2 linked regions of the Homo sapiens genome follow. The protein of the gene in region 1 purifies or fractionates together with the protein of each later gene. This does not show direct contact. Each region holds a gene or a part of one and is shown in the gene's direction. Other genes may lie near its edges. The genes, in order: SETD7 and RNF111.

Region 1 (3,824 bases):
GCACCATTGCACTCCAGTCTGGACAAAAAGAGTAAAACTCTGTCTCAAAAAAAAATTTTTTTTTTTAAATTAGCCAGTTGTGGTGATGTCTACCTATAGTCCCAGCTACATTGGAGGCTGAGGCAGAAGGATCACTTGAGCCTACAAGTTGAGGTTACAGTGAACTATGGTCTCATCACTGCACTCCAGCCTGAGTAACAGGGTGAGACCCTGTCTCTAAAAAATAAAGGAAGGAGGAAGAGAAAGAGGGAAGGAGGGAGTGAGGTAAGAAAGGAAGAAAAGGAGAGAAGGAGGGAGGGAGGCAAAAAGGGAGGAAGGAAGGAAGGAATAATTCTTCATGGAGTGGAGTTGACATTTTTGTTGTCATCTCAACTGGGATCAGTACTATCCTCCAAGGGCTTACAGTATGTTATATGACACTTTCAACTTTCCCTAATATCTAAATTCCATTGCTGAGGGTGCACCTTCAGTGTTTTATTCAGAAATAGCACAGGGCTGAAGGAAGGTGGAAATTAATTTATATTGGACATTTTTTTCTTAGTGTTCAGATTTATTGTAATTCTCTCAATCTAAAGTGGAATAACACATTTTATCAAACATAAGCTTTTAAAACTCTGAAATATGTGAACTGTTTTCTATGGTGAAAGCATTTTCAACAAGTTAATAAATGCTCTAGTATGAGGCTAAACTGATTATTTGGATATTAATACCTAAATCAAAAGTAGGACACTGAATTTATATGCCTAAATTTAACTTGATCGCAACAACATTTCACTAAAAAAAGCTCTTAGCAATACACTGAGTGGCTTTTTTTAATGAAAAGAAAAAAGCAAATTTAATTTATTTCAATGAGAGAAATGGCATCAGATATTTAGAAAATAATTGTCCAAGTGATTTCATATGACTCAAATGTCATTGAATTTATGTCATGTACAATTAGTTTTTGAGCGAGAAGAAAGCAATTATGGCCTAGTTCCCTTCTGACCATTAATTTCCTGGGCCTTTCCTCTTTTGTGTTAAGAGGAAGGGATCCATATTGATTATGATTTATTTAAGTAGATGTGTCTTATTGTAAGATGTTCTAGGTAACCCATTGTATACAGAGTCAGATGTAGCAATAAAACACTGTAGTTGTTTGCAGCTATTTTATGTTTATGTAATTAATGATACAAATAAAGAGCATATTTATTCTTTTTATTGTTGTTGTTGAGATGGAGTTTCATTCTTGTTGCCCACGCTGGAGTGCAGTGGCACAATTTTGGCTCACTGCAACCTCTGCTTCCTGGGTTCAAGCGATTCTCCTGCCTCAGCCTCCTGAGTAGCTGGGATTACAGACGTCCGCCACCATGCCTGGCTAATTTTTTGTATTTTTAGTAAAGACGGGGTTTCACTGTGTTGGCCAGGCTGGTCTCAAACTCTGGACCTAGGGTGATCCACCCACCTCAGCCTCCCAAAGTGCTGGGATTATAGGCGTGAGCCACCATGCCCGGCCGCATATTTATTCTTTATAAGAGTGTGTACTTACCATCTTTTCCAAGGGCTAATATTCTTTTATCATGTTAGAATAAATTATTTGAGGAGACTAAAGCTTTCACTGTGGTAGTATGGTTTGTGTTGCCTTTTATGTCTGTGAGCCATCTGGAAGCTACATTTCAATGTTTAATGTCCCTGCATTAGACACAGTGTTTAATGTTTTCATACCTTTTCTCTCCATGACCCAGGTTATTACCCCAAGAAAAAGCCAGTAGAATAACTACTGCCTTCATTTTCACCCACCTCTGCAAAATCAGCTCACCAGAATGATTGGGAAGACACCAATAAGGTGATTCCTGGGTTTTGTAAAACATGTAGATAGTAATAAAAAGCATAAACATTGACTGTAAATGTCAGTATTAAACTATACCAATCTTTGACCTAGGAATAACCAGTGACTTAAAAGTCCATGTAATAACTTCTGCTGATGTTCACAATCATTGCTTAAATGACCATGTGCATACTCTGGCTCCATTTAAAACACAAGCCCTCTGAGACACAGTGGTGGACGGTATAGGATAAGGTTATTACTAAACATTCAAAGCTGAAAGATTTTGTAAAGTAAACCAGTAGGTTTAAGGTTAAGCTTAAGTTTAAGGTGAGAAGGACTCTGGGTTTCTGTGTTTGTACAATGAGCTATATAAATCTTAGGGCAGTTTTAAAGATATGACACTGTTCCTTGTGTGAATATAACAATAACAGTGAGATTTTCAGACTGGCTAGCAGTCCTCCACATCATATTATAGAATGATGTATAAAATCATATTGCATACTTAATGTTCTAGAATTAGATAATTTATTCCAAAGACTGTGTATGTGGCAATTGACTATAAAACAGTGGAATCTCAACCACACTTCAGTTAAGCATGAGAGATTGGAGGCATCAATTCCAAATATGAGGACTCTCGGGAGAGTACTTGGTAAATTGTGACATGCCCTGCAGATAATATTACTGATAATGACTCTCAGTTCCAGGTAAAAAGCAAGCTTATTTAAAGTTCATATTCTGGAATGTGTCTAAGTCTGTTCTGGACCTATCAGTTCACAAAGTGTACATAACAATCAATTTGGTACTGCTGGTGCCGATGAGGTGAGAAACTTTTGCACGCTGACTACCCTTTCTTTCCAGGGAGGGGACCCTTTGGCAGCTGGAGGGGAGTTGGGTGGGGGACTTGTCTGGCAGCATCTGAATGCTTAGACGTCAGATGGGAGGAGCACTGAAGATGTTAAGGTTTGCCTTGTGGTTCCCTTTCTCCAGGGCACCTGGACGATGACGGATTACCGCACGGGTTCTGCACAGTCACCTACTCCTCCACAGACAGATTTGAGGGGAACTTTGTTCACGGAGAAAAGAACGGACGGGGGAAGTTCTTCTTCTTTGATGGCAGGTAGCACTCACAGTTTTATTTTGTTCTTTGGGGGTACCGAATTATTTTATGTTAAGGACTAATACAAACGAAAGAATTCAAGTGGAAGTTTTTCTACAATTTATTCAATGGGTAAAATTAACCCCTACCTGTAGGCACTGCTTTGGTGACTGGGGAAGTCACCCTGTGGTTATGGGACAGCCAGCCTAAGGCTTAGCTCTTGTCATCACTGTCTCCCAGAGTGTGCTTGGCCAAAAGATACCAGATTTGGGGGCCCCCATCTTGCATAAGTTGGTTACATGGTCACCCAATTCTTTGATGGATTTCACTTGATCATTCCGGTAGCGCATCTCCCTGAAGTCACACAAGTGGGGATCGTTTTTGTCAGTGGCCAGTTTGCACAGTTCCAGTAAAGTCAGATTCACACTTTTTTCCAAGGGTCACACACACTCTATTGCGTTCAGCACACTCTCCCAGATGTCACAATCTGGCATCTTAGTACCCCGAAGCAAGATTCTGCCACCTTGTTGGTTCTTCTGCTTCATCGGTTTCTCAGCTTGTTGCCTCTCCTCATGAGATTGATGAAAAAATGCTTGGCAAAGTTCTTCAAAGCCACATCATTGCAGTCCCAGTAATAAGACATAAACAGGTACACACAGGAGGGCAACTCTCTAGACTTCAATTTTTTAAATGCCTGTCTTTGGGATAGTTGGTCTTTTTGTGTGATAATTTAATACTAATGTCAGAACTATGATTTTCCACAGTGTACCTCTAGTTACAGTATTTTTCACAACAGGATTTCTTTTATTTTACTCTCATCCCCTGTCTGAGGACACTGAGAGGGAGAGGCTCCTTACTCGCTTGTGATAGATAGGAATGACTATAGGACGTTTTTCTTTCAAGAAGAGATGGGGTTGCCCAGGC
Region 2 (3,824 bases), on another chromosome or scaffold:
TTTTTTTTTTTTTTTAATGGAGTCTCACTCTGTGGCCCAGGCTGGAGTGCAGTGGCCCCATCTTGGCTCATTGTCACCTCCACCTTCCAGCTTCAAGTGATTTTCCTGACTCACCCTCCCAGGTAGCTGGGATTAGAGGTGCACGCTACCACGCTCAGGTTATTTTTTATATTTTTGGTAGAGATGGGGTTTCGCTATGTTGGCCAGGCTGGTCTCGAACTCCTGACCTCAAGTAATCCTCCCGCCTTGGCCTCCCAAAGTGCTGGGATTACAGGCGTGAGCCACCACGCCTGGCTACTTACATTTTTATTTTGACATAATTTCAAACTTACCGAAAGATTTAAAAAATAGTACTGAGAACTCTTGAATACTCATTATTCAGATTCACCAATTTTTAATGTTGTCACTCTTGCTTTCTTATTTTCTCTCTCTTTTTTTTTTTTTTTTTTTTTTGAGGTGGAGTCTCGCTGTGTTGCCCAGGCTGGAGTGCAGCAGTGTGATCTCGGCTCACTGTAACCTCCATCTCCCAGGTTCAAGCGATTCTCCTACCTCAGCCTCCTGAGTAGCTGAGATTATAGGTGCCCGCCACCACGTCCAGCTAATTTTTGTATTTTAGTTAGAGACGAGGTTTCACCCTCTTGGCCAGGCTGGTCTCAAACCCATGACTTTAAGTGATCAGCCTACTTCAGCCTCCCAAAGTGCTGGGGTGAGCCTTTGCGCCTGGCCCCTTATTCTCTCTTGAATCATTTAAAAGTAAATTGCTTACATTATGCCCATTACATTGCATTATGCCCATTTGTTTCTAAATATTCACTGTGTATTGTATTCTTTTGCGTTATCACTGCACCAGTTACAAAATTCAGAAAATTAAACTTTGATAATATTAATCTACAGCTCATTTTCCAGTTTTGTCGAATTGTCCTGATAATAGCATTTATCCCTTTACAGCATTTTCCTCATAGGACCCAGTTCAGGATCACAAAATGCATTTAGTTGTCATATCTCTTTAGTCTCCTGTAATGTGGAACAGTGCACCTAATAAGCAATCTGTGGGGATAACTTTGAGATAGTGCAGCTACTCTGCTCCTCATCAGATCATCCTGTTCCTCATCACTCCCCACATCCCCCAAGGCCCATGTAGCATCCATTGATGTTTCTTGCCTATGCTGATCTTTACTGATCTTTACTCTAATGGTTGGAAAGTGTTTATTTTGTAACTCATCCATTTTCTTCACTAATGGACATTCTTTTATAAGGAAGAGACATTCTTTTATCTGATTAATACAGAATTGTGTGTTTCCTGTTTTATTCAGTGGGTTAAATAACCCATTATAACCTTTATTTTGATGTTCAAATTGTCCCAGATTTGTCCATTAGGAGCCTTTCCAAGTGGGCTCCTGTGTCTTTTTAACATAACCTCTTGTTTTTTTTTTTTGACGGAGTCTCACTCTTGTCTCCCAGGCTGGAGTGCAGTGGCGCGATCTTGGCTCACTGCAACCTCTGCCTCCCGGGTTCAAGCAATTCTCTGCCTCAGCCTCCCAAATAGCTGGGATTATAGGCGCCTGCCACCATGCCCGGCTAATTTTTGTATTTTTAGTAGAGACGGGGTTTCACCATCTTGGACAGGCTGGTCTTGAACTCCTGACCTTGTGACCTCGTGATCCACCTGCCTCAGCCTCCCAAAGTGCTGGGATTACAGGCATGAGATGCCGTGCCCCGGCCTTTTTTTTTTTTTTTTTTTTTTTTAAGTATTTCCTGTCTTTCTGGCACAGCAAGATGTTGCAAGCACATCTTATTTCTTTCCTTTGTCAGTCTTGGAATGAGCCGTTTTCCATGGAACCCTGGTTCCTTTTAGTGAGCAATCCAATTTGCTGTTGTGTTATTTATATACAGGAATAATCTTTTTTTCATGCATCAGGACATCGCTAGGAAACTAAATTTAAATTAGATTTTTGATAGTAGGTTTATATTTCTTTGAAGATTTTATGAAGTAATCACGTAAGACTCAGCAACTTATTGTCATAAAGCAATTTTTTTCTTCTTTTCTTTTTCAAATACATAATGAGTTATGTTCTTAATTGTGATCATATGAAATGAGAAAAAATTGTGTGTGTATGTTTAGCCACTTAACTGTTTATTAAAAACCTGAAGTTTATACTTTTAACTATTTTTAACTAAGTCATCAAACATTCTAATCTGAAGAAAACTGTTGCTTTTTAAGAAACTTTAAAATGAGTTCAAAAAATTGGGCTGGGTGCGGTAGCTCATACCTATAATCCCAGCACTTCGGGAGGCCGAGGCATATGGATCCCTTGAGGCCAGGAGTTCAAGATCATCCTGGCCAACCTGATGAAACCCTGTCTCAACTGAAAAATGCAAAAAAAAAAAAGTAGCCAAGTGGGGTGGTGCATGCCTGTAATCCCAGCTACTTGGGTGGCTGGAGCAGGAGAATCGCTTGAACCTGGGAGGTGGAGGTTGCAGTGAGCCGAGATCATGCCACTGTACTCCAGCCTGGGCAGTAGAGCAAGACTCCATCTCAAGAAAAAAAAAATTAAAAAATTATGAAACAGAATTTTTGTATGTGATTGAAAACTCATCAGTACTTTCTTTTTTTTTTTTTTTTTTTTTTTTTTTTTACCCAGGCAGTTACTGTTACATCTTGGTATATTTCATAGCCAGTTTCTCACCTGTGTATGGATATTTGCTTTATTTACTTATTCAATCTAACTTAATGTGTGTTTTTTCAAAGTAATATTTTGAATATTTTAAATTTTCAACCAATTAATATCTGTACACGGTTTTAAAAGTCAGTTTCAAAAGACTTACAATGAAAAACAGTGGTTTCCTATGCAACTCTCCTAATCTCCTAGTTGTACTGCTTAAACAGAAACATTTTAGCTCTCAAAAATTATTTCTGTAGTCTATACCTTTATATTTATAAGTAGTATGCTTATATTTGTTTGTATTTACTTGTGTACTTATATTTCTACTAATATGCTTAATTTTTACTTAGTTTTCATGTCAGTTTAAGTGTCTTTTTTTAAGTTAATTTTTTCAGAGAAAAGTAATATATACAAAGTGTACCAAATTTATAAGGTACAAAGAATGTACAGGGAAAAAAAACAAGGCTCCTTGCCATTCTTATCTTCCTATGACCCAAGTCTTTTCTCTGAAGATGTATCTCTTTCCTCCTGTATTTTATATGTGCATCCAGAGTAGTGGTTCTCAGAGTGTGGTCTGTTGACTCTTGAGGTAGCTCTTCCAAGTGTTCAGGAGGTCTACCAGGTTGAAACTATTTCAGAATATTACCAAGTTCTCATTTTCTATGTAACTGATGTGAACACCAGTTGACATTTGCACTGATGGTGCAAAAAACAGTGGTGCATTAAACTAATGGCCCTGTAGCACAAATCAAGACAGTGGCCAAACTGCATTAGTAATCACTATGTTCTTCATGACTACACATTTGCAGTTAAAAAAAAAAAAAAAATCAGGGCTGGGTATGGTGTCTCACGCCTGTAATCCCAGCACTTTGGGAGGCTGAGGTGGCCACATCACGAGGTCAAGAGATCGAGACCATCCTGGGCAACATGGGGAAACTCCATCTCTACTAAAAATACAAAATTAGCAGGGCGTGGTGGCATATGTCTGTAATCCCAGCTACTCGGGAGGCTGAGGCAGGAGGATGGCTTGAACCCGGGAGGCAGAGGTTGCAGTGAGCCAAGATTGCGCCACTGCACTCCAGCCTGGCGACAGTGTGAGACTCCATCTCAAAAAAAAAAACAAAAACCCAAAAAATTTGTAAATTTATTTTGATTCTTGAG

Evidence for each region.
Region 2: the proteins of SETD7 (region 1) and RNF111 purify together in Homo sapiens (affinity purification with western blotting, with the first as the bait; one study listed by BioGRID). This does not show direct contact.

Annotation. Positions count from the first base shown.
Region 1 is NC_000004.12:139,546,017-139,549,840, reverse strand, and holds part of SETD7 (histone-lysine N-methyltransferase SETD7), read left to right. Parts: intron 1-1,721; exon of another isoform or gene 1,722-1,822; intron 1,823-2,791; coding exon 2,792-2,921; intron 2,922-3,824. UniProt on the Homo sapiens protein: Histone methyltransferase that specifically monomethylates 'Lys-4' of histone H3. H3 'Lys-4' methylation represents a specific tag for epigenetic transcriptional activation.
Region 2 is NC_000015.10:58,994,043-58,997,866, forward strand, and holds part of RNF111 (E3 ubiquitin-protein ligase Arkadia), read left to right. Parts: intron 1-3,824. UniProt on the Homo sapiens protein: E3 ubiquitin-protein ligase. Required for mesoderm patterning during embryonic development. Acts as an enhancer of the transcriptional responses of the SMAD2/SMAD3 effectors, which are activated downstream of BMP.